Linked DNA regions of Homo sapiens: region 2 is linked to region 1. Evidence: fine-mapped expression QTL. A gene starts in region 1. The other region holds a variant in brackets. All regions are shown on one strand. Distances are between the middles of the regions.

Region 1 (10,357 bases):
CTTCTGGAAGTCCAGGGCAGGAGGCTGCCTCTTCTCTGACTTCATCAGCAGCCCCCATCTCCACTCCCACCCCAGATGGAGTCTGGTGACAGATTTTCCCAGGAGCCTCCCTGGTTACCTTCATGGTCTAGACCCGATGTGGCCTGAAGAGTTGGAGACCTTCCCTGCACCCACCTCAGATACCAGGATAACCCCAGAACAATCTTTCTCATTGGTGCCCAATTCCACGCTCCTCTCTCTCCAGTCCACCCTCCGCTTGCAGACTGGCCTTTTAGACACATAAATCAGACATGGCCCTCCCGTGCTGAAAACCCTCTAGGGGTCTCCCAACTGCAGAATAAACGCAGGCTCTTTACCCAGGTCTTGGAGACCATCCCACCCTCCCCAGTCCTGCATACTGCGCTTTCTCTCCTCCGGCCTAGCCACCTGGGGCCTTCCCCTCCTTGTGCTGGGCCCTCTTCCTGGAACACCTTTCTCCCCAAATCTTCGCCTTGCTGACCCTACTTGTGATTCAGCAACCCATGTCTCAGGGAGGTCTTACTGGCCCCCTTATCTAAATACGCTCACCCCTCTCCTTCTCTAAGTTCAATCTTCCGTTCTTCATTAATTATTTCTACTTGTCCACTTACCTGTCTCCCCTAGTAGAATATAAATTCCTCATGGACAGGGACCTCGTGCTCTCCCACACCCAGAGAAATGAAAATTCCCTTGCACTTCAAATGCTGCCCAGAACCCTGTGGGTTCTCAAGGACTGTTGTCAAACACTTCACTTATTTATCAAATGCTTATGTTGCACTTGGTATGTGCTAGGCTCTTTTTAACATGTCTTACAAATATTAACTCATCAAATCCTCACAATTGAGACTCACGCTGGCCTCGTCTCAGATGAAGAAGCTGAGGCACAGAAGAGGTAAGGCACTTTCCAGTCCACCCAGCTCATAACAGTAGCCGGGGGATTTGAACCCACGGAGTTCAGCCCATGTTCTCAAGTGTGGCACCTTCCCTGCCCCCCTGCACAACAGCAGGGCCATGCCTTCACCAGGAGGCTCGGGGCAGGAGGGGAGGCAGTGGTGTTACTTTGCACAGGTCTTTAACCTGGGAATCAGGAATTCAAATCTTGTTTCTACCCCAAGCTTTGCTGTGTGGCCTTAAGCAAACCTATTCCCTCTCCGGGCCTCAACTTTCTGTCCATTTACAGGGTTGGGCCTTCTCTCACCTTGTGTCATTCCTGTCCTCTTAACCGCCACTGTGTGAACCAAAATTCTCTCCCATTAGCAGCGGGGTCTTGAACTTGTGTTCCTCCCACAGTGCGGAGCCTTCTGCCAGGTGACCACGACACTGGCACTCCCCATCACTGACCTGGCTACTACAGGAACGGCGTTCCCTCCGGGAAAACCGGGGTTCTGTCCTCTCCAACTCCAGGCCTCTGGCCCCGGCTCCCCTTCCCCTCATCTTCCTCAGGGCTTGTCCTTCTCCCGGAACCCAGGCCTTCAGGGCCCCGCTCTCCCACACACGCCCCGGCCTGGGCCTCCCACCCGCCCAGTCCGCCCTCCACCACCGAGACACCTGGCCAGGGGGCCTCCACCTCCCTGGGAAGGCCCCGACCCTTCCCCTCTGGTTGCGCGCCACAGCCCCCTTCTCGCTCCCTCTCCTCCCCGCGCCTCTTTTCCAGGCGGCACCGAAGTCCTTCCTACACACACGCTATTTTTGTACCATCATCTCTTCTTCCTCTCCCCTTCCCCCTGCGTTCACTTACTTCCTTCTTTTCCTTCACCTCGGCCCGGCTCTGAAAGGATCGGGCCCCTCCGGCCCGCACCCACCCCCAAGAGGGGCCTTCAGCTTTGGGGCTCAGAGGCACGACCTCCTGGGGAGGGTTAAAAGGCAGACGCCCCCCCGCCCCCCGCGCCCCCGCGCCCCGACTCCTTCGCCGCCTCCAGCCTCTCGCCAGTGGGAAGCGGGGAGCAGCCGCGCGGCCGGAGTCCGGAGGCGAGGGGAGGTCGGCCGCAACTTCCCCGGTCCACCTTAAGAGGACGATGTAGCCAGCTCGCAGCGCTGACCTTAGAAAAACAAGTTTGCGCAAAGTGGAGCGGGGACCCGGCCTCTGGGCAGCCCCGGCGGCGCTTCCAGTGCCTTCCAGCCCTCGCGGGCGGCGCAGGTCCGGGCCCGGCAGGGACGGGGAGGGGCAGAGCGGGACCGGTCGGGGCTGGGGACCAGCCGCGCGGGCTTCTGAACGGGCACGCTGTCGGAGCCGGAGGCTCGTCTAGTCCCGAGCCCCAGCGGGCCGCGGCGGCTCGCGGGGCCGCCTTCCCGGGACAGCAGCCGGGGCCCGGGCGCCGGCGCGGGGGAGGACGCTGCCCTCCCCGGCCGGGCGCGCAGCTCGCAGCCCTCGCTCCCTCCCCCGGGGCGCGCAGGCGGGCGCTCGCTCGCAGAGAAGGTGCCGGCGGGGCCGGAGCCCCGAAGCCTCCCCGGGCGGCGGGAAGACGGGAGGAGGGGAAAGGGAAGGAGGGAGGGGGTCGGGCTGCCGGGAGGGCGGGGGCAGCGGCCGGGACTGCGGGCCGGGAGCGAGCCCAGCCGCCCGCGCCGTGTGGAGCCCGGGCGGGGCAGGTGGGCAGCGGCGGGGGCGGCTCCGCGCGGCCGGGCTCGGCCGTGCTGCCCCTCGCCCCTGCTCGCGCGGTCCTCTCTCCCGCGCGGTCTGTCGGTCTGCGCGCCGCCTCGCTCCTCGCTCCTCGCTCTCCCCCTCTTTCTCCCCCTCTCGCCTCTCCGTGTCTCTGGCTCTCTGCCTGGCTCCCTTGGGTCTGTTTCTCTCTCCTGCCGCCTCTCTCTGGCCGCCCCTGGCTTTATTTCTCGCGCGCTTGGGGTCTCTCCCAGTCTCCGTCTCTCCATTTCTCCTGGGGGGCGGGGAGGGGGGGTCTCCAAAAACCGCGGCGGCGGCGGCGGCCGCTCCAGGCGCCCGTTCCGGAGTCGGGGGGAGGCCCAGCCGGGAGGGGGGAAGGGGGGGAGCCTTAGTCATTTCCCCGCTCCAGCCTGCTCCCGCCCGAGCGCGCACTCACGGCCGCTCTCCCTCCTCGCTCCGCAGCCGCGGCCCATGGAGCCCGCCGGCCCGGCCCCCGGCCGCCTCGGGCCGCTGCTCTGCCTGCTGCTCGCCGCGTCCTGCGCCTGGTCAGGTAAGCACCCCCCCGCTCCCCACCGCTGCACTCCCCAAACTGCGGGCTCAGGCCTCTCAGACTGGCACTGGGACCCCTTCGGCTAATGCCGAGCAGTAATAGGGGGAGAGACGCCTGTAACCAGGGTTATAGATGCAGAAACTGAGGCCCAGAGAGGGCCAGCGACATGCCCAAGGTCACACAGCCAAGGGTAGAACCCAAGTCTCTTCTATGAGAGTTTGTCTCTGTGGACTCTGACTCTGTGCACTGTGCTGGGCACTGAGACAAAAGAGCCGAGTTGCTTCACTCAGCCCCTGCCCGGTCCAATGGGGAAGGCTGACTGACAGTGGCTTTCAGAGCAGGGCCGTCCGGCTTCCCCAGAATCTGTCCCCATGGACATACGACTTTCCACATGTTTGACTTCAGGGTGTGAGGGGAGGAGGTGAGGGCAGAGGTCCTCCCGATGCTGCCTGGAATGGAACAGAGACAAGCTGTTGCAATTAGGGAAGAGTGAGCCCTCCCTCTGGTGCGCAGAGTAAACCGGTGTTAGTGTGTGCCTGGGAGAGAGGGAGCCGGGAGGCCGCGGTAACCCCAGAGCGAGCTGCTGCGAGCAACAGATCCTTATGTAAAAACACGGTGGATTGTCCCTGTGGTTGCCAAAGCCTCTCCCTGGTGGTCTTGCTCCTTGAGGCGCTCCCAGCTCCCCCTTCCTCCTGCCTTCCCCGAGCTTCCAGGCAGCTCCCTGCAGTTCAGGTGCTCCGCGGGGATGTTACCTGTGGCTCTGACCATGTCTTTCTGTTGGCCTACATCAAACACCTGGCTGTCGCCGGCAGGCGGGCTCTGAAGGCTACTGTGCATGTTCACCAAAGGGTGAGGTCACCATTCAGGAGTCTTGCTTCTTAAATGGGTTTTGCAAAACCATGGGTCTCCTGGGAGGGCACCGGGTGGGGGGCGGGGGGAGCAGAGAAATGGCATTAAGGGAGTTGGGAGGGAGAGAAAAATGGGGATCTTGTTTTTTGTCGTCTTGAAACTGTGTTGTAGGCAGTGGGGTCTCTCTGTACCTCCCACCCTTGAGGAGGGAGGTAAAGATGAGCTCAGTGTCCAACACCCCCTTTTGCGTTTGACTAGAGATGGTAACCATCTGATAGCAGGGAGAAAGGGAGAACTAGCAAAGAGTGGGTGGAAGGAGAAGTATGGGGGGTAGACAGCTGCTTCTCTCTGCCCTGCAGTTTCCCCTGAAACCCAGGAATTCACATAGGCATCCCCCCACCCCACCCCACCCTCCACCCCCAGTTCTTTTCAGTTATAGTTGCGTCCTTGCTGGGCTGAAGGGAGCACTGATACAGTTCACGTCTCTCCAGTGAGTGGCATCTCCTATCTGCTCCTTCCTGCCTGAGCTGGCCATTTGTACCCTGCAAAAGTCCGAGTTCCTGCCCTGCCATCCTTCCTGGCCTGGAAATGCACAAGTGTCACTCACAAGTGCTTAATTTTCCTGAAGCAGGGAATTGGGCCCGAGTTAATTTCTAAATGTCTATTCCAGACCCTTCTCCGACCAGGAGGCTGTGGTTCAGTCCCTGGCAAACGAGCAGTGACGCTGATTAGCAAGTGCTCCGATGGGCAGCCTGCCTTTCCTGGGGCACCGGCTGGGAACACCAACACCTTTCTTGTGAGCACATCTCCCCCTTTTGCCTATAAAAACAGTCTATAAGATGGTAAAGATTGGGCCATAAAACTTCCGTTCCAATCCATTCAGCATCAATAGCCTGAAAAAGTGGGAGCAGCAGAGGGGCCAAGATTAGCTTTGAAATAAATAAATCTTAGGAGGTAAGAATGAATTTCTTGGTCGAGGGTGGTGGGGAAGGGATGAGGTGCGACCATCATAGCTCAAGTCTCCCATTATCCTTCAGTATCTGTTCTTCGGGGTCCTGGTCACACCATGGGCCTGGGCAGGGAAGTCACCTGGTTTGGCTGAAGGATGGGGCCTCAGGCCCCTCCCCCTATTGCTCCAGACATGGAATTTACAACAAAGAAGTAGAGAGACAGGATATGAGGGTAGGAAGGTACAAGGAGGCAGTTGTCCAATTTTCTAAGAAAATGGATTTGTTCGAGTGAGAAACTAAAATGTCAGGTTTAGGAAGGCGGCTTTGGATTGAATGACTACTAGTGTCTCAGGCAGAACTGTCAGCCTGGGAGGTGTCACATGATTCCTGTGTCTTCACATGATCACTGTTTTGGGGGGGTGGGGCCAATCATGTGAATTATCCTGGGTGGGGGAGGCAAGAGAAGAAGTTTCTAAAGATTGCTTTTAGCACAAATGCTGCCAAAGGGAAATTCTAAAAAGATCCCAGTGAAGTCACCAACCTATGTTTTTGGACCCAATGTGAGGCCTGTTTCCTAAAACAACTGCACTGAGGGAGATTCTGAGGCTGGGAGAAGGGCAAGGGACTGAGGCCTGGGGACACCTGGCACCTGATTTTGTGTCAGCAGGGCCTGACGCTGAACCCGCAGGATGCCTGCTTGGCCCCAGGTAGGCCTTGAGACCTCTGAGTCACCCCCCAGGCCGACCTCAGATAAACTCCCATTCATTTCTTCTCTCTGGCCTGGAGGAGGCCAAGCCAAGTTGCAGTTCAGGCTCTGGGGAGCAGCGGGGCCCCCCAGTGAACCTCTCACCGTTTGGTAGAGGGTGGCACTCTGGGGGCTCCTCTGTACTTTCCTAAATGGTAAAGTTAATCTCACTTCCTCTTTCGTAAGAAGAGAAAACGGGGCGGGAGTGCTTTGGCTCAACACATCAGGCTGTTGGAAGTTCCTTTAAAGCCATAGTTTTCTCTGAGTACTTTCTGGCCTTTACCAACCCCTCGGAAACTCACGGTAATTCACGTCTGTACTTGCAGTCATGCAGCACCTATGCAGTGCTGGTGTGAACCATGTGTTGAGAGAAGGGAGGAAAACCAACATTCATTAGATAGTTAATGGCGTTCCAGGCCGGATGCTGCTCCTGCGTCGTCTCACCCGCAAGACATGGATTGGCTCTTCTCCCCATTCTGCAGATGCAGAAAATCGAGTCCCAAACTGGGGAACTAACTTATAAGTGATAGAGAGGAGCCAGGATTTTGGATGCTGGCCTTCCTGCTGGGTGGCTTCTAGGGAAGAAGCTCAATGACTTAATCAGGATGATTTAGTCCAAGCTGGAGAGGGAGTGAGAGAGGCCCCTTTCTGGCCTTGGGTGGAGGACTGTAGAAGAGTTCTTTCTCTGGGCAGAAGGTTTTGATGAAGTCACAGGCATTTCTCTGAAAGCCTGCTGAGGGTGGAAATACTGACAGCCCCTTGGTCCTCACCAGTAACAACACATGAGAGGTGATGTGGCTCCTGTGAGAGCCCCCCATCTGGGCTGCTGAGCTCTGGAGCCCCCAGAGCTGGAATATTCCTCCCTGCATCTTCCTGGTGCCCTTTGCGACAGATGGAGAGGGGGTGTGCGAGAGGAAGGGAGTCTAAAAGTGTTGTACGGATCCCACACGCGCTCGCTTGCTGCTTCCAATGGCTCCGTGCGACAGGTTATTTTCTTATTTGTAGTCTTGGACTGACGGAAGGTTTCCCCCCTCTCTCTCTCTTTTTAAATGTGCTCAGATTTCTGGCCTGTCAACACAACTCAGATCATGTCACTCCCCAGCTCAAAACTGTTGAGTGGGTCCAAGTTTTCTTTAAAAAAAAAAAACAAAAAAACACAAAGCTGCCGTGAGGCCTGGGCTTCCTCCCTGCCAGGCCTGATTTCCAGCCACATGTTTTCCAACAAGCTGACCTGTTGAGATGCTGCAGGATAACCAGGCTTCCTCCCTGCAGACCAGAGCTTTGCTGGCTACTCAGCCACACGAGCACCCCAAAGACCCTGAGAAGCCCTGCAATGTAGAATCCCGAGCTGGGTCACATTTACTCCAGTGTTCCCTGAACTTATGAACGAGAGGCATTTGATTTGTAGTATGCCCGTTAGCATGTGGCCTCTCTCCGTTTGGTAAACGGTTTTCTACAGATCCATGCCCTCAGCTGAACTCTCAGCTCTGTGCCTTGGCCCGTGCTGTTCCTGCCATCAGAAATGCCCTCCCTGTACCTCCTTGTCTTCCTGTGTCTGAATCCTACTCATCCTCCGAGGTTCAATTTAATGTGCCTCCTGGGGAGAGGTCAGAGGAGCCTCTCCACGCAGACACACACCCTGGCCTAGCGCTAAGATGGTGCTAAGACCCCTGGGTGTTGATCTGAGCCCTGCTACTGACTTGGACAATTTGCAGGAATCTGTGTCTCATTTTGCTCATCTGTAAAAGAGGAATGGTATTAACCACTCTATTGCAAGGATTAAGTTAATTAATGCGTGTATAATGCTGGAAGCCATGCCTTGTATGTAGTAAGCACTCAATACATATTAACCAGTGTTGTAATTAGCATGGCTTTATTCTGGTTTGATTCCTCTTTTTTAACAATTGGGACGGATTTTCATAAAACATCTAACACAGTTGCTTACACATAGGGGGTACTTAAAAAACAGCAAAGGCTGTTCAGTGAACAAATGTCCTTCAGCTTGATATTTTCCTTGTAGCTTTTTTTTTTTCTTTTTTTTTTTTTTGAGATGGAGTTTCACTCTTGTTGCCCAGGCTGGAGTGCAATGGCGTGATCTCGGCTCAACGCAACCTCCGCCTCCTGGGTTCAAGCGATTCTCCTGCCTCAGCCTCCCGAGTAGCTGGGATTACAGGGATGCGCCACCATGCCTGGCTGATTTTGTATTTTTAGTAGAGACAAGGTTTCTCCGTGTTGGTCAGGCTGGTCTCGAACTCCTGACCCCAGGTGATCCACCTCCCAAAGTGCTGGGATTACAGGCTGAGCCACCGCACCACCCAGCTGTCCTTGTAGCTTTTATGCTGTTGGGGGATGGACAAGTTGAGTAGAAACCCAGGCTAGAGTGATTTAATTGCCTGTTACTAGGGACTGAGTGCTGTGGGCACAGCCTGCCTCTAGGTGTCTCTATCTGGATCCACAGGTCTGCAGTTGTGGATTCCCGGACCTGCAAAGCAGTAGGGGGCCTGAGAGAGCCCTCTGTGCTTTCATCCAGTGCCTTATGGTGCGGCCAGAAGAACAGAGAGAAAAAAACTGGCCGGGCCCACGCGGGAGATCCATGGCAAGGCCCGGCTGGAACGCCAAGCCTCCTGTGGTCCAGGCCAAGGCTTTTAAAAACTGGGCTGTGCTGGAACTTTCCACTGTTTCAGCCAGAAATCTGACAGGATCCCGAATTCCCCGGGAAAACACTAAAGTAATACTAATAGGAACCATCTGGGTTCTCTGCTTCCTGGGCTCAGCACTTGGTGTGTGTGACCCTGGTGGTACTCACAGCCACCTGGCGATGCACGTCGTTATCTTCGGACCCGTTGGATCTGTGAGGAAACTGAGGCTCTGAATGGTGAAGCAGCTTGCCCAAGGCCACACCGTAAGCGCCAGATGTGGATAACCACTGTCGGCCTAATCACAGAGCCTATGTGGTTAACTGTTGTGCCATTCCTTAGCCGTCACTGAGGCTTGCTTGACAGGTAGGGAAACTGAGGCCCAGTTGTGCTGGCACCCTGCTCCCTTAGTGCTCCTCTCATTTTTGTTTTTGTTTTTTCTTCCTTTCTTTCTTTCTTTTTTTTTTTTTTTTTTTTTTTTTGAGACGGAGTCTTGCTCTGTCGCCCAGGCTGGAGTGCAGTGGTGCGACCTCGGCTCACTGCAGCCTCTGCCTCCTGGGTCCAAGCAATTCTCCTATCTCAGCCTCCCCAGTAGCTAGGACTACAGGCGCACACCGTCACGCCCAGCTAATTTTTGTGTTTTTAGTAGAGACTGGGTTTCACCATATTGATCAGGCTGGTCTCAAACTCCTGACCTCAGGTGATCCTCCCGCCTCGGCCTCCCAAAGTGCTGGGATTACAGGCGTGAGCCACTGCACCCGGCCTCCTCTCGTATTTCTATCAGTGCACCTTCCTATGAGGTGGGGGCAGTGTGTGTCCCCAAGGTGTGTCCCTGTCCCCATACTAGAGAAGGAAGCATCTATTTTCACAGCTGAAACTGCTTTCCTGTTAACTGCTGGTGTTCCTGGGATGGGTATTCTGATGAAGCCCTCCACGAGATGGATTTTCCCTGCCAGGTGTCTTGCCAGGCCCTCAGTCCAGAGAGATGCAAAACAGCTGAGGTGGAAGTCGGAAATGCTGCAGAATTGGTTCTTTGTGTCTGTAAGATTTCCTGGCACATTCGTTCGGGGGCGCAGGGTGTTAGATGGCTGCAGATTAGCGCCAAGAGCCCAAGGAGATCAGGTGCTCGGATCAGGAGGGAAATTGGAAGCCGGGAGTGAGCGATGGGCCTCCCAGCCAGGAGGGACGGCTGGAGCAGGTGGGCGGTGATACCAGCGCCGTTTCTACAGCTCCATTCTTCAGGCCGACCGTCGGTGTTCTCCAGAAATGGAAGCCCGTGGTGGAAGGAAATACTAGGTACACGATGTGCTCGGCACAGGCTGAGCCTTGAACATGTGTTAGCTCTTCCTTATCTTTTTATTTTGGAAAATTTCAAACATATGCAAAATGAGAAGGAATGATGTAATGAGCCTCAGCTTTGACACTGATCAACTCTATACCATGCTTGTCCCCTGCCCCTATTTTTGCTAGGGAGAGGAGAATCGGGGAGTATATAAAGCAAGTGCTAAACATGGGGTATCATTTCACCCACCGATACTCTCTCCACATCCCTTCATGTGAGCTGTTACCTGACCCTCACCACGAGCCAAACAGTATGGCCCTTCATCCCCACTTTACAGATAAGGCAACTGAGGCTTCCCAAGGCCAAGTGGGGCTCATCCTTAGGCCACACAGCCAGTGAGAGGTAAAGCCAGGCTCCACTCCTCACTTTACCCTTAACCACTTTGCAGTCATTATTAGGGTCATTTTAATTGTAAATATTCATTCAACAAATATTTTTGAGCACCTACTATGTGCCAGGGATGGCTCTAGGTGCTTGGAGGATACAAATGTGAACAAGACAGACAAAAACACCTGCTCTCGTGCAGCAGACATTCTAGTGAGGAAGAGAAAAACACACCCAAGTAAACAAATGATGCCAGGTAGCTGGGGAGAAAAGCAGGAGGAGGGAAGGGAGAAGGTTAGTCAGGACAGAGGGAGGGCCGCTCTAAGGAGCAGAGGCCTCAAGAAAAT
Region 2 (12,842 bases), 86 kb before region 1:
TCCCAAGCCTGCTGCCAGGCCTCTTCCTGGTCTATTGTCTGGAGGCAGAACACTAAGCCCAGGGTGTAGCCAAGGGGCACTGCAGAGGATAGGGTGTGGATGGAGATTGGACCTGCAGCCTGGGATGTCTACACACATGCAGGTGAGGTGTGCACGGTACAGGATGGAGCTGGGGATGAGAAGGGAAGGTGGCAGTTTATAGGCTGGGAAATGAGCGACCAGGGAATGGGGCTGGCTCTCCCCAGCACCGCCACATTTCAGTGCGAGTATCTAAGAAATCCAAATCAATCCTGGCCTTTCAGGCTGCTGAGAAGTTATACTTACTGAGGAGAAGGATAGAACATTTAAGAGAAGGTATTGGTCTGATTTATAATTTTTAAATATTTAGATTTAAGGGTGAGTGGACACCAGCCTCCACCAATATCAAGAGTGTGTTTGGCCTAGACCCTAGGAGATATTCAATATTTATCAAATAGATGGATGAATCTCATTTAATTTAATCCTCACACAGACTCAACGGAGGGAAATCACATCGTCTGTGCTTTATTGATGAGGGAACTAAGGCTTGGAGAGATTTAATGACTGGCCTATTTGTCAAGTTAGAAGTTTGTCTAGCAGAGCTGAGAGCCTCAAGCCCTAACGTGTCTGATTCCAAAATCCATTGCAATTGGTTCATGACAAGTTCACTCCCATTATGACCACATTAAATATATTATAACTGTTTGAGCATGTCACTCGCTGATCTTTGGGAACATAAGCACTGTTTATATTACATGAAAAAGGCCTTCTCTTCTTCATTCTTACTCTACCCTCTCAGGCACCTTTGGGAAGTAGTAAGACAGGAGCTAATGCTCCATTTAACAAATGGAAAACTGAGGACTGAGCAATAGCCCAAGGTGTCAACGAGGCTTAAACAAATAGGGATTTTTTTTTTTTTTTTCATGTAGCAAGAAATCCGGAGGTAGCTGGGCAAGGGCTGGTATAATTTTTGCATTATTTTCAGCAAACAACTTCTGCCTCTTGGTCTCTTCTGGCTATTTATTGCTACAGCATAACAAACTGCCCCCAAACAACAACCATTGTATCGTCTACAGTTTTGTGAGTCAGAAATTTGCGCAGGGCTCAGCTGGGTGATCCTTCAGTGATCCATGGAGCGCCGACTAGAGTCACTCAGTGATCTTCAGCTGCTGATTGTGCTATGCTGGAGGATCGAGATGGTTTCACTCAGGTTCCTGGTGCTTTCGTGGGGATGGCTGGAACACTGAGCTCAGCTGGGTCCGTCTGCCTCTCCATGGAATCCCAGGGCTTCTCCAGGTGGGTGTCTCCAGCAGAGTAGTTTGACCTTTTTCATGGCAGCTCATGGCTCCCAGAGGCCATAGCAGAAACTGCCAGTCCTCCTAGAGGTTAGGCCTGGAGTGGGCGTGACATCATTTCCACCATACTCTATTGGTCAAAGAAGTCACAGGTCAGCCCAGATTTAAGTACAGGGGAAATTGACTCCTCTCAAAGGGAGGAGGATCAAAGAATCCACAGCCATCTTTAAATTATCACATGGTCCGAGCTGCTTGAGATGTAGTCATCATGTCTCAAATTCCAGAAAGTGTGGAGGACTGGTGGAGGAAGGTGTTTACCTTCCCTTTTAAGACATTTTCTGGAAGTCACACACAACATTTTCCATTGGCCAGAACTTACATGGGCATACCTAGGATATGGAAGGGAAACTGGAAACTGTAATCTTTATTGCAGGAGGCAAGCCATGTATTCTGATGAAAATTAGGGATTTTGTTGACTAAGGAAGAAGGGGAGCATGGGTATTGAGGACCAACTAAAATCTATTCCATGGTTAGGTGTTTTGTTGTTGTTGTTGTTGTTTTTGCTACCAACAGCCAAACACTGTTCCTAGCAGAGATGTTTCTATACCAGTCTTCTCCTTCCTAACACATCTTCCACTCTGTCATCAAAATAATCTTTCCTTTTTTATTATTTGTTATGTTCCTATACCGTATATCTTTTAATCATTCCTATGCCAACAGCAAGTGTCCGAATTATTTTGTGTTGTGTGAAACAGTAATGGGGTTTGCCACACACCAGGCACTGTGCCAAGCACTAAATGAACATATCTCACTTGATCTCCGCAGTATCCCACTGAGTGAGGATCACAGACGAGGAAGCAGAAACCCAGAGAGGTTAAATGACTTGCTCCGGGCCACACAGAGAGTAGGTGCAAGGCTGAGATTCAAACCCTCGACTGTCAGATTCCAGAGCTGTGCTGTGAAACCCACACATGTGAAGCTCAGGGACTGTTTATGGATGACAGCCCCGGAGCATGGGCAAGACTTGTGCCTGGTGTGTGAAGGTTACAGGTGACAAATGTGAGCCAAGAGCCTGCAGATGCTCCCTTCCCGCTGTGATCCTTCAGTAGGGAAGACTGCATCAAGCCCCAGGGCCATGCTGGCATATTTCATGAAATTAAACTGGCACCAGGAATTCATATCATTCTATTTCCTTTACACCCTGACTGAACCCCAAGTCTGGAGGAGACTTTGCAGAACTGGCTACATTGCTAAGCAGGGCACAGGCCCAGTTAAATGAGGCACCTTTCTGCTCCAGCTCCAAGCTTCTCTGTTCTGACCCCGGTCTTTCTTGCCTTTGCCTCACCCCTGTTCGAGGACATGCAGTGACTCCCTGTTCCCCTCAAGTTCAGTTTTGCCTTTCTCCAAATGCTCCTTGTAAGGACTGGGGAGAATACGGTTCCATCCTTTCGGTGAATTTCAGTTTCTGCATCTGTCAAATGGGAGGAAATAATCCCTGCTTTGCTAAGTAATTGAAATGTTGAGGACCACACAGGACAAGGAATAGGAATGGCCTTTGCAGGGCAGAGCAGGCGAGGGGCACAATCCCACTGGATCTGAGTAGTATTTAGAAGACTAGGCATTATCTCCTCGGAAGGCAGAAAGATCTGGGGTAGGGAGTGGGGTTGTGGAGGATCAGGGAGTGCCCTGCACCTTCTTGTGGGGGCTCCTGCCCACAGTCTTGCAGAGGAAGTGGCCCAGGGTGAGCATTTACATATTCTATATGCCCCGCTGGGGGGACACAGTGAGACCACCGGTTCTGAAACCAGATAAACCTGTGTTTGAGTGTCCCAGCTTCATCTCGTACTAGCTGAAGGACCTTTGGATAAGTCATATCACTTCTGCCTCCAGTTTCACAGCTATAAGTTGGGGCTGAAAAAAGAACCTGTCTCATTGGGATTTTATAAGGAATCAAATGAGAATGTGCGCCTTTAAAGCACCTCATTTAGCACAGAAGAACTGTTCAACCAATAGTCATGGTAAGAGTGACTGGTGTTTTTTGAGCCCTGATTAAATTATATGCCATAAGAGTCTTCTTGATTAGTTTATATACTCCTCACCACAATGCTAAGATGTAGTTAACATTATTATTTCCCACTTGTAGATGTAGAGATGGGGATGCAGTTAGGCTGAACGAGCTGCCCAAGGTCATAGTAAGTGGTAGAAGCTGGGCTTGAACCGGAACCCAGTCTGTCTGATGCAGTCTTCCTTAATCAATAGCCATGCTGTTACTATTACTGTTGACATTACTATTATTGACCTTGAATTCTTTACCCAATATCTCCACACTTCCACAACACCTGGTGGGGGCAGGAAGAGCCACCTGACCCAAAGACTGCCAAAATATAGGCTGAGCAGCCTGTGATACAGCCTGGGACAGAAGCTCCACCCAGCAGGGCTGAGCCCAATTAACTAAACTCATCAGCAGTGATGGTGGCTGCCAGTTTGAATTGGACCACAAAGAGTTGGGATGATGCCTACAAGCTGAAAGACCCTAAAAGATGACATAATTCAAACAAATGTGAAGGCACAGGGGCAATGAGTAAGCCAAACTTCCAAGACAGACAAGGGGGAGGAGAAATTTGACAAACGTCTGCTCCTGAGATGACTATGAACTGACTCAGTCCCAGAGCACTGGGTCCTGAATGATGTTCCAGTGGCTAAGTTGTATTCTGTGATGTGTGGTCAAAATTCCTGCCTTCCAGTCCCTGCATGTAGCTTTACAACAACCCCCATGGCTCAAGTTAGGAGAGAGGCTCTGCTCTTTTCAACCAAAATTAGGCTAGCTCAGCTCTCCCGTTTATCTTTAGGGTAAATGCTAAGATTTGGAAGTGGTGAATGGAGAGGGAGGTAGGATCAGGACATCCCTCCATCAATCCCAGGTGACGAGGCCCAGAAGACATGGCCTGGCCCAGTTCCTGTTATATCAGAACCTTAGTCCATGTCTCACCATCTACAATCATATCCTAAGTGATCTCACTCACCATCTGGGGTGACTCCGGGCCAGGCGTCTCCCCTGCACTCCAGCCTCATGCCCAGCTACTAACTCCACAGCTCCGTCCGTGTTACACAGGCATGTCAAATCTCACCTGTCCAAAATGGAACTCCTGATTGTGCCTCCAAAACCCACCCCTTCTGCAGGATTTTCATATCAGGAAATGCCAACTCTATAATTCGAGCTGCTTAGGTCAAATACCTTGGAGTCAGCCCTGGCTGTCCTGAGTCATATTCCAACATTCTTGCAGTCCACAAATTCTATTGGCTCTTCCTTCTAAACGTATCCGTGCCCTCCATGATCACCCTAGTCTGACCCACTATCGTCTGTCACCTGGGGTGACACAACAGCCTCCTCTTGCCTCTGGCCTGCCTTCTACAACTTGTTCTGAACTCAGCAGCCAGAGATGTCCTGTTAAAACCTAGGCTGGAGCTTGTAGTCCTCTTGCTCAAAACCCACCCATCACTGCCCTTCTCACTCAGAGGAAAAACAAAGGCCTCCTAAGTCACACAGTCTGACCTCCTCAGTTTCCCCTACAGACCTGCCTCCCTGACCTCACCTCCCAGAGCTCTCCCCAGCCCTTCCTCTATTCCAGCCACTCAAGGTGATCACCACTCCTGGAAGGAGAACTCCCACCCATGGGCCTTTGCATCTGCTGTGCCCTCTGCCTGGGGTGCCCCTCCAGCACGGCTCCCTATCTCACTTGTGTGGGTCTGCAGAGATGCCTTCCCTGGGTACCTCATTAAAAATTACCACCCACTCCAGCAGTCCCTCCCCCGTCTCCTTCCCTGCTTTAACTTTCTCTGTAGCATTTAACACCATCTATTGACACGCGGTAGATTTTACTTACTGTTTCGTGTCATCTCCCACACTGGGATGTTAGCTACGTCTAGGGAAGGACCTTCTTCCATCAGGTGTATCCCCCTTGCCTAGAACACAGCGTCTGATGCATAGTAGGTGCTCAGCAAATCCTTGTCAAATGAACAAAGAAGCACACATAAGAGGACTTCCTGGAGGCACCCCTACCCAGTTCTCACGCCCCCAGCAGCCACCCTCTGGGTGTTCCAGGCCCTAGGCTAGTCCCCTCACTTCTTTGATCCTATTCAGGGGAAATCGGCCTCAGGCCCTGTCCGAAAACAGGAGAACTAAGGAGAAGCTAGTCATGGAGGAATTAGTCCAAATAGGTGGGGATTTCTTTTTAATTAGAACTATTTTTTTTTTTCCCTTCACACAAAAGGACTTGTGTCCCAGTAGCTGGCTCTCCTGTCAAAGCTTGTCCCGGGCTGAGAGCTGGAGCTCTGTGTTCCCACCAAGGATCTACTGTCAGAATCACTGGAGAGCAGCGTGGGCTTTACAGAAGGAAGGTTCTGGGGCAGCAGGGGCACGTGGCCTCCCTGGGACAGGCACACACCTGGAAACCCCACAAATGGGAAGGACTCCATGTGGGTGACAGGTGAGGCTGGTAACAAGCGTGTAGGGTCACTGTACTGTTCTCTCCACTTCCTGTAGTTTGAGAATTTTCTTTAGAGAGAGAAAAAAAAAAAAGAGTGTTTTTCCCCTGAAGTTCTCT[T/G]TTCCCGACACATGCCCAGAGGATTTCCTGTAGCCCTCCCTCCCCACCATACCCCACCCACAACTTCTCTTTTCTCCTCCCCTCTGATTCGAGGAGAGAGCCATTCTGCTCTGCTTACTAGCTGCCTGTCTGCATCTGGGGACACTTACAAACCTTTGATGCCTGTTTACTCCCCTACTCGCCAAGATTTGGGTCCAGATGGCCTGGTGAGGTGGTGCTGGGCACTGATGGTTGCTAAATGCTCCCTGGGTGATCCTGGCACTTTCTAGAGTTGAGCAACTACCTTGTTACCCCAGACCCAGCCCTGACTCTGCCACACTCAGGGATCTCCTGTTAATAGGGTCCAGCCTCCTTAGAAGACAGTTTAACAACATATTTTGTTACCTGAGCCCATCTTTGGGGTCCACCATAGCTGCCTAAGTGACTTGAGGAGATATTTCTTCCAAACCCAGACAAAGAGCCTCATTCACCACCAGCACTCCTGGTGGATGACATCCTCCCTGTTACCTTATGCGACACGGGTTCCCTGTGACCATTTGGAAAGTGCAGAGAAGCACACAGGAGCTGGCCACAGCCCACTTCAAGCCCAGGAATTTGTGAACAGAAAGGAGCCATTGTCTCCAGTCACTTGAAGGGAACAGCTCAAAAACACATTCAAAGGGCCCTGATGATAATGAATATGCTAATATGATTTCCACTGGGCGCCTGTGCTACCTCCAAAAAACCCTTTCTGACCTTCCTCATGGATTCAAAGCTTTCATTGAAGTCGACAGGGGATTTTGGTTAAAATAACATGAAAGTTTTCATTTAAATGGACAAAGCTGGGAGTTGTGAATTAAGCATGAGTTTCACATTGGTCCTGACACCCCTGACCTTGATGGGGAAATGCATAGATTGTGACTGGACCTTCTGGACCTTCTAGCTATTGCCTTTGGGTGGGCAGAGCTAGCAAGCATTAAGGGTCCCTTTTGCATGACAAGTGAACTCTGGAGACCTAGGTTTAAATCCCAGCTCTGACACTTACTAGCTGGGTGACCTTGAGAAAGGCAAATCATTTCTCTGATTGAGCCTCAATTTCCCCATCTGTAAAATGGTTTGGATAATACTTCCCTTGCAGCATTGCTTCCAAGAGTGAATAAGAAGTCTGTATGTGGGAGGGGTTGGGGAAGTGGAAAACATCTTGGAGCTCCCCACCGTCTCACCCAGTCAGAGACCCAGCAAGGGTGTGAACACCTCCAGCCTCCCATATCCCAGACCTTCTTTCCTTCATTCAGCGTATATTTATAAAGCATTTCCTGGGTGCCAGGTACTGTTTTGGGGCTGGGGATTCAGCTGTGAACAGAACAGATGAACTCTGCCCTCAGTGGAGCTGCCATTGTAGTGGGAAGGACAGACATTAAACACATGAATAGATAAATAATAAGTAAGTGGGCTGGGCGTGGTGGCTCACGCCTGTAATCCTGACACTTCGGGAGGCCGAGGGGTGGGGGGGGGGGTGTTGGATCACCTGAGGTCAGGAGTTCGAGACCAGCCTAACCAACATGGTGAAACCCCATCTCTACTAAAAATACAAGGGCGTGGTGGCACATGCCTGTAATCCCAGCTACTCGGGAGGCTGAGGCATGATAATCACTTGAACCTGGGAGGCGGAGGTTGCAGTGAGCCGAGATCATGCCACTGCACTCCAGCCTGGGCAACAGAGCAAGACTTCGTCTCAAAAATAATAATAATAATATGTAAGTGGTAATAAGTTCTTTGGAGAAGAAAAACAAAGTCCTTAATGAAAAGAGCAGAGCTTTAGAATTAGACAGAGCTGAATTCAAATCTCAGCTTGCTCTTTGCTGGCTGTGTAATGCCTGGGAAAGAGATTTTATCTCCCTAACACTCTTCTGCACATTTTTTAATGAGACCCACTGATGAATCACCCACCCATTGAACAAATATTTATAGAACTCTGGGCCAGGCACGGTGGCTCATGCCTGTAATCCCAGCACTTCAGGAGGCCGATGCAGGCGGGTCACTGAGGTCAGGAGTTGGATACCAGCCCGGCCAATATGATGAAATCACATCTCTACTAAAAATACCCCCCCAAAAAAGAAAAAAAAATAGCTGGACATGGTGGCGTGCACTTGTAATCCCAGCTATTCCAGAGGCTGTGACAGGAGAATCGCTTGAACCCAGGAGACAGAGGTTATAGTGAGCCAAGATCGTGCCACTGCACTTCAGCCTGGGCAAGTGAGCCAGACTCCATCTCAAAAAAGAAAAAAGAACTCTGTCCTGTGTCAAGCATTGTTTTGAGTGCTGGGGAGGCCACAGTGAATGAAACAAAAATCCTTGCCCTTGGGAGCTTAAAATCTAAAAGGGAGAAATAGACAATTAACAAATATACGTATATCAGGTGATGAAAGAAAAAGCAAGGGAAGGAGGTCAAGAATGTGGAGGACATTATTTCAGGGAGTGGTGGTCAGGGAAGGCCTCTCTGGGGAGCTGACATTTAAGTGGAGCTTTGAAAGATGTAGGGGAGTTAGCCATGTGGGTGTCTGAAGGAAGAACCTTCCCAGTCGGAGGAGACATCAAGGGCAAAGGCCCTGAGGTAGGGCCATGCGTGGCTGTTGGGAGGATTAGGGAATTGGAGGCAATGTCTAAGACACACCCAGCACAGCCCCTGGCTCTGAGTGGGGGTTCAATCAATAGCAGTTATTATTTGTACTCATTTTATGAAAAATGCAAGAGAAGTCATTTTCCATTATTATAAAAGTTCTTGAAGGCTTTGTGGATTGATGACTTTATTCCCTTTTCTTCTTTTGTTTTTCTGAATCAGAACCAGCAAGTCCAACCCCCAAGCCCACCTGCCAGCCCGCCTCTGTGCCCCCAGTCCCAATCCGGCAGGAATGTTTGACATGCAGTGGTGCTGGAGGGAGGGAGTGTGTAATTAATGATGGTTATTAAATAATAATGCCAGCATCTTGAAGTTCTTTCCTCTCCACAGCCTCACAAATTAGACGCCTTCGAAATGTTGTGCCCGTCGCCAAGATGCACCTCCATCTGGGGTGGAAGCAACATCTGCTAAACAGCTGCATCTTGTTTAAGAGCTGGTACTTAATTCAATTATTCAGCTCTGATAGGGGCAGGCAGAGCTGAGCGGAAGGGGCAGGCCCAGTCATGGGCATATGCTGCTCCACGTCTTCCCAAGTTGACCCAAACTCCTCTCCCACAGCGTCCCCACTCGCATCTGTTGATTCAACCAACCTAGACATCTGTACATTTCCAGAACCGGCCATGCTCACTCATGCTGCCTCCTTGCTTTTTACTCAAGCTGTGTGCCCCTGCCAGGAACACTCTTCTGCTGCCTGTCCAACTCCCGTGTCCTTCGAAAGGCCCAACTCAAACATCAGTATCTCCTCCAGGACAGAGCATAGGGAATTACCTCCCATGAGCTCTCTCGGTGCTTCATGCATTCCTTAACTGGAGCATTCATAACATTACATTGCAATTTTGTGTACCCTGCTGTTTTGTAAGCCCCTTAGGCTGGGAACCATGTGTATTTCATTCTTGTTATCTCAGCATTGTACCTGACTCCCCATAGACACACCCAGCACAGCCCCTGGCTCTGAGTGTTTAGTTAATGGATGGATGGATGGGTGGGTGGGTGGATGGATGGATGGATGGATGGGTGGGTGGGTGGATGGGAGGGTGGATGGATGGATGGATGGATGGATGGATGGATGGATGGATGCATGCATGGATGGATGGGTGGGTGGATGAATGGGTGGATGGGTTGGTGGGTGGATGGATGGGTGGGTGGATGGATGGGTGGGTGGATGGATGGGTGGATGGATGAATGGATGGATGAAGAGATAGAAGAATGGAAGAAAGGAGGGAAGAACAAAGCGGTAGACAAACAGATGGACCCACTGCCACCATCTAAATCCAAACAACCATCATTTCTCACTGAAACACTGGGGTCTCTCACTGGTCTTTCAGTTTCTACTCTTGCCCCCAGTAGTCTCTTCTACTCAAAGCACTTAGTAATCTTTTGAATATGGATTTATATCATGTCACTCCCCTGTTAAAAACCTTCCAGTGGCTTCCATATTCCTAACCCTGACCTCCAAACCCCTATAGGAAACAGCCCCTGCTTATCCCTCTGATATCATCTCCTCTCTGTCCTATGCTCTGAATACTTGGGGAACCTGCCAAGCTCTCTCTCACCTCAGGACCTTTGAATCTGCTCTTCCCCTTTGCCTGGGACTCACTTCCCTGGATTTCTGTCAAGCTAGTATCTTCTTAAGTCTTCCAGTCTAGCTCTAATGCCACATCCTCAAAGAGACACTTCTTTACTTTGCCAGTTAAAATAGCCACCATTGTGGTCCTTAAAGGCCAAGGGGCCTGATCCAAATACCAATGCTTTGGCTGCTGAAACCCAACAGGCTTCCCAGAGCATCATCCTCAGCTGGGGTCGTGACGCAGACCTCCCCCAAGTGCCTGCCCTACAAGCCATCCCTTCCCTGGGTGCTCACTCCTCCTCTCCATCAACTAAAGATCCTTCATGAATGGGCTTGTCTGGAACTGCCGCAATTAAACTATCAGAGCAACATTGGACCATTTGTTTACTATGGCACTTAGAGCTGGAATGGCTTGTTGTTTTGACTGTTTCTATTTTCAGCTCCATTTCCTAGGGGTAGTGGGGAGAGGGTAGGCAATGAATCCTGGTCTGTTCAAGCAAAAAGATGCATCAGTGAAGCCTAGAATTTCAGAGTCACAGAATTCTAGCATCATTGTCATGGAATATGAGAGCAGTGAAAATCTATAATTTTGGTTATAGGTTCCTAGATTCACGAGATTCTAGAATCTTACTCAATGAAATTAGAATCTTAAAGTCAGACAAATTTAGACTCAAAGTCCTAGAGTGATGGGCTCTGAGGAGACTGTCACTTTGTCTACTCCATATCTCTTTCCCAGAAGATCTTCTCTGGGTACCTTATCCACAACGTTCCCCCCTACCGACCCACAGCCTGTCACTCTCTATTGTTTTAATTTTTCTTTATGGCTCTGATCACCACCTGACATTTGATCTGTTTCTCTGTTCATTTGCTTATTGCCTGTCTCCCTCACATGTGAGATTGAGGTCAGGAACTTTGTTTTGTTCAACGTTTAGAACAATGCCTGGCATGTTCTAAACAGTACTCAGAACAATGCCTGGCATGAAGTAAGGGCTAAAAAAAGCAGTGCCCATTCATCCAAAAAATATTTATTGCATCCCCACTTCATATTGGTGCCTCAGAGATGATCTTCTCTCAGGACAGGAAGCAGGTCTCACTTTGCATGCCAAATGCAATTGGCAGTAGATACCCAGAGCACGGTGTTGAAAAGACTTCTTGGGGCTTATCCAAGCTCCGTGGGGAAGGGCAATTGATGAGCAATGTCTGGCATAGACTCAGCCATGGGAAAAAGTGGCCATCTCTGCTCTGGCCTCCAACCCTGCACTGAAAAAAACTGAGGTCCAGAAGAAGATGCACTGGGCATGCATGGGGTGCATAGCCAGAGTTAGAACCCCATCTTCAGTCTCCCCTCAGTGTTGGTTCCTGAGCCCAAGCCTCTCACAAGCACCTGTGTGTGCCCTCCCCTCCCCATCAGCCCTTAGGCTCTCCCTCCCCCGAGGCCTTCCTGGGATGAAGGGGCTGCTGGAGTCCCTGGCCCTGAACCACAGCCTGGGAACCCAATTCTGGAACACCGCCTGAATGCGCAAGCCAGTTATTTTTAAAAATCCAAAAAGAAAAGGAAGAAAGAGAAAGCTCACTGCTTCGGTCTCCGCACTAGCCCTGGCTCAGAGAATAGAGACTTGAAAGGAACAAAGGGTTTCCTCAAACACAGCAGATCAAGGCCTTGGCTTATGTGGTAACCGGTAACCGACCACCGCGCTTTGTGACAAATCCTTCAGAAGGCAACGGCCTCTGTTCCCTCTGCAGCCTTGGCAGAAGGAGGTGGGGGAGCAGGGGACACCCTTCCCCATCGCCCCCCAGCCCCAGTCGGGCTGCTTACAATCATGGACTTCGAGAACCCCTGACTGTTAGGACCTCAAAGGCCTTCACAGAGCATGGAATCCAACCCGCTCTGGGTCAGCCAGGCAGGCAGAAGCCCTGGACAGGCTCAAGGTCACACTTTCCTCCTCCCTGGGTTCTCTTTGAAGGAGGTGGAGACCAGGGAAGTGCACCCAAGCCTCCATTTCCTCTTGAACCCATCACAGCTGCCTGAGATGCCCTCTCAGAACTCTCCCAGCTACCAAGATTCCTACTTCTTTTTTTCCTCCTGTGGATTTCTTCTTCCAAGGTGCCTGTGGGGTGTGGTTTGACCCCTGGAGACCTGGGGGTCTCCAGGTACACAGCAGGAGTACACAGAGGGGTACACAGGAGGGGTCTGCTGGTGGATTATGAGATCACAGAAGGACTACAGTCCACCCTACACTCCAGGTTGGACAATAGCAGCTGACTCAGGTGCTGTGCCAAGCCCTTTGCAGTGAGGCCTCCTGTAGGCACCGTGGCGATCCTATGATGTAGATAGGCATTGTTAGCCCCATTTTCCAGACAAGAAAGCCAAGGCTCCAAAAGACTGAGTAAGGGCCCCAAGGGGGTTGGCAGGGATTGGCAGAGCTGATGCTTGAACTCGGGGTTGCCTGTCTTCTAAACCACACTCTGTTAACTGGTCTGCTCTGCCCCACCCTCTGTGCATCAAAGGCAGGCAATGCTTCACCCCACTCTCAGGCACTGAGGAAGGCAGCAGAGGGGCCGGGCTGGGAACAAGGGGCTTCCCTCCATTGGAGGCCATTGTGCTCACAAGCCACACACTCGCACCTGCACGCAGGCTGCAGAGCCCATCAGGTCTCCTCATCCACCCCTCCATGTCAGCCTCTCTCCCCTGCCTCCTT

Which allele goes with the higher level. Positions count from the first base shown, and alleles are read on the strand shown. Sizes are in standard deviations (SD) of each study's normalised expression.
As copies of T replace G in region 2, the expression in subcutaneous fat of the gene that starts at base 3,045 in region 1 goes down (small effect, 0.17 SD a copy in GTEx).

What was found. PIP is the estimated chance that this variant, and not a neighbour inherited with it, causes the effect.
Region 2: its variant is fine-mapped to the expression of SIRPA in subcutaneous fat (GTEx, PIP above 0.99). The same link has a PIP of 0.9 or more in tibial nerve.

Annotation. Positions count from the first base shown.
Region 1 is chr20:1,892,363-1,902,719 of GRCh38, forward strand. It overlaps SIRPA (signal regulatory protein alpha), which reads left to right and starts at 3,045. Exons shown (of 8, transcript NM_001040023.2): 1 at 3,045-3,164. The coding sequence starts at 3,086. It overlaps LOC102724545 (a long non-coding RNA gene), which reads right to left and starts at 1,888. Exons shown (of 4, transcript NR_186374.1): 1 at 1,757-1,888. RefSeq lists silencers at 2,009-2,268, 2,279-2,398 and enhancers at 3,690-4,205, 7,831-8,400, 8,210-8,259, 9,497-9,996.
Region 2 is chr20:1,805,357-1,818,198 of GRCh38, forward strand. No RefSeq gene overlaps it. Among named protein-coding and RNA genes, the nearest start is that of SIRPA, 84 kb to the right of the region's middle. RefSeq lists a silencer at 10,967-11,261. The variant T/G (reference allele first, on the strand shown) is at 5,918.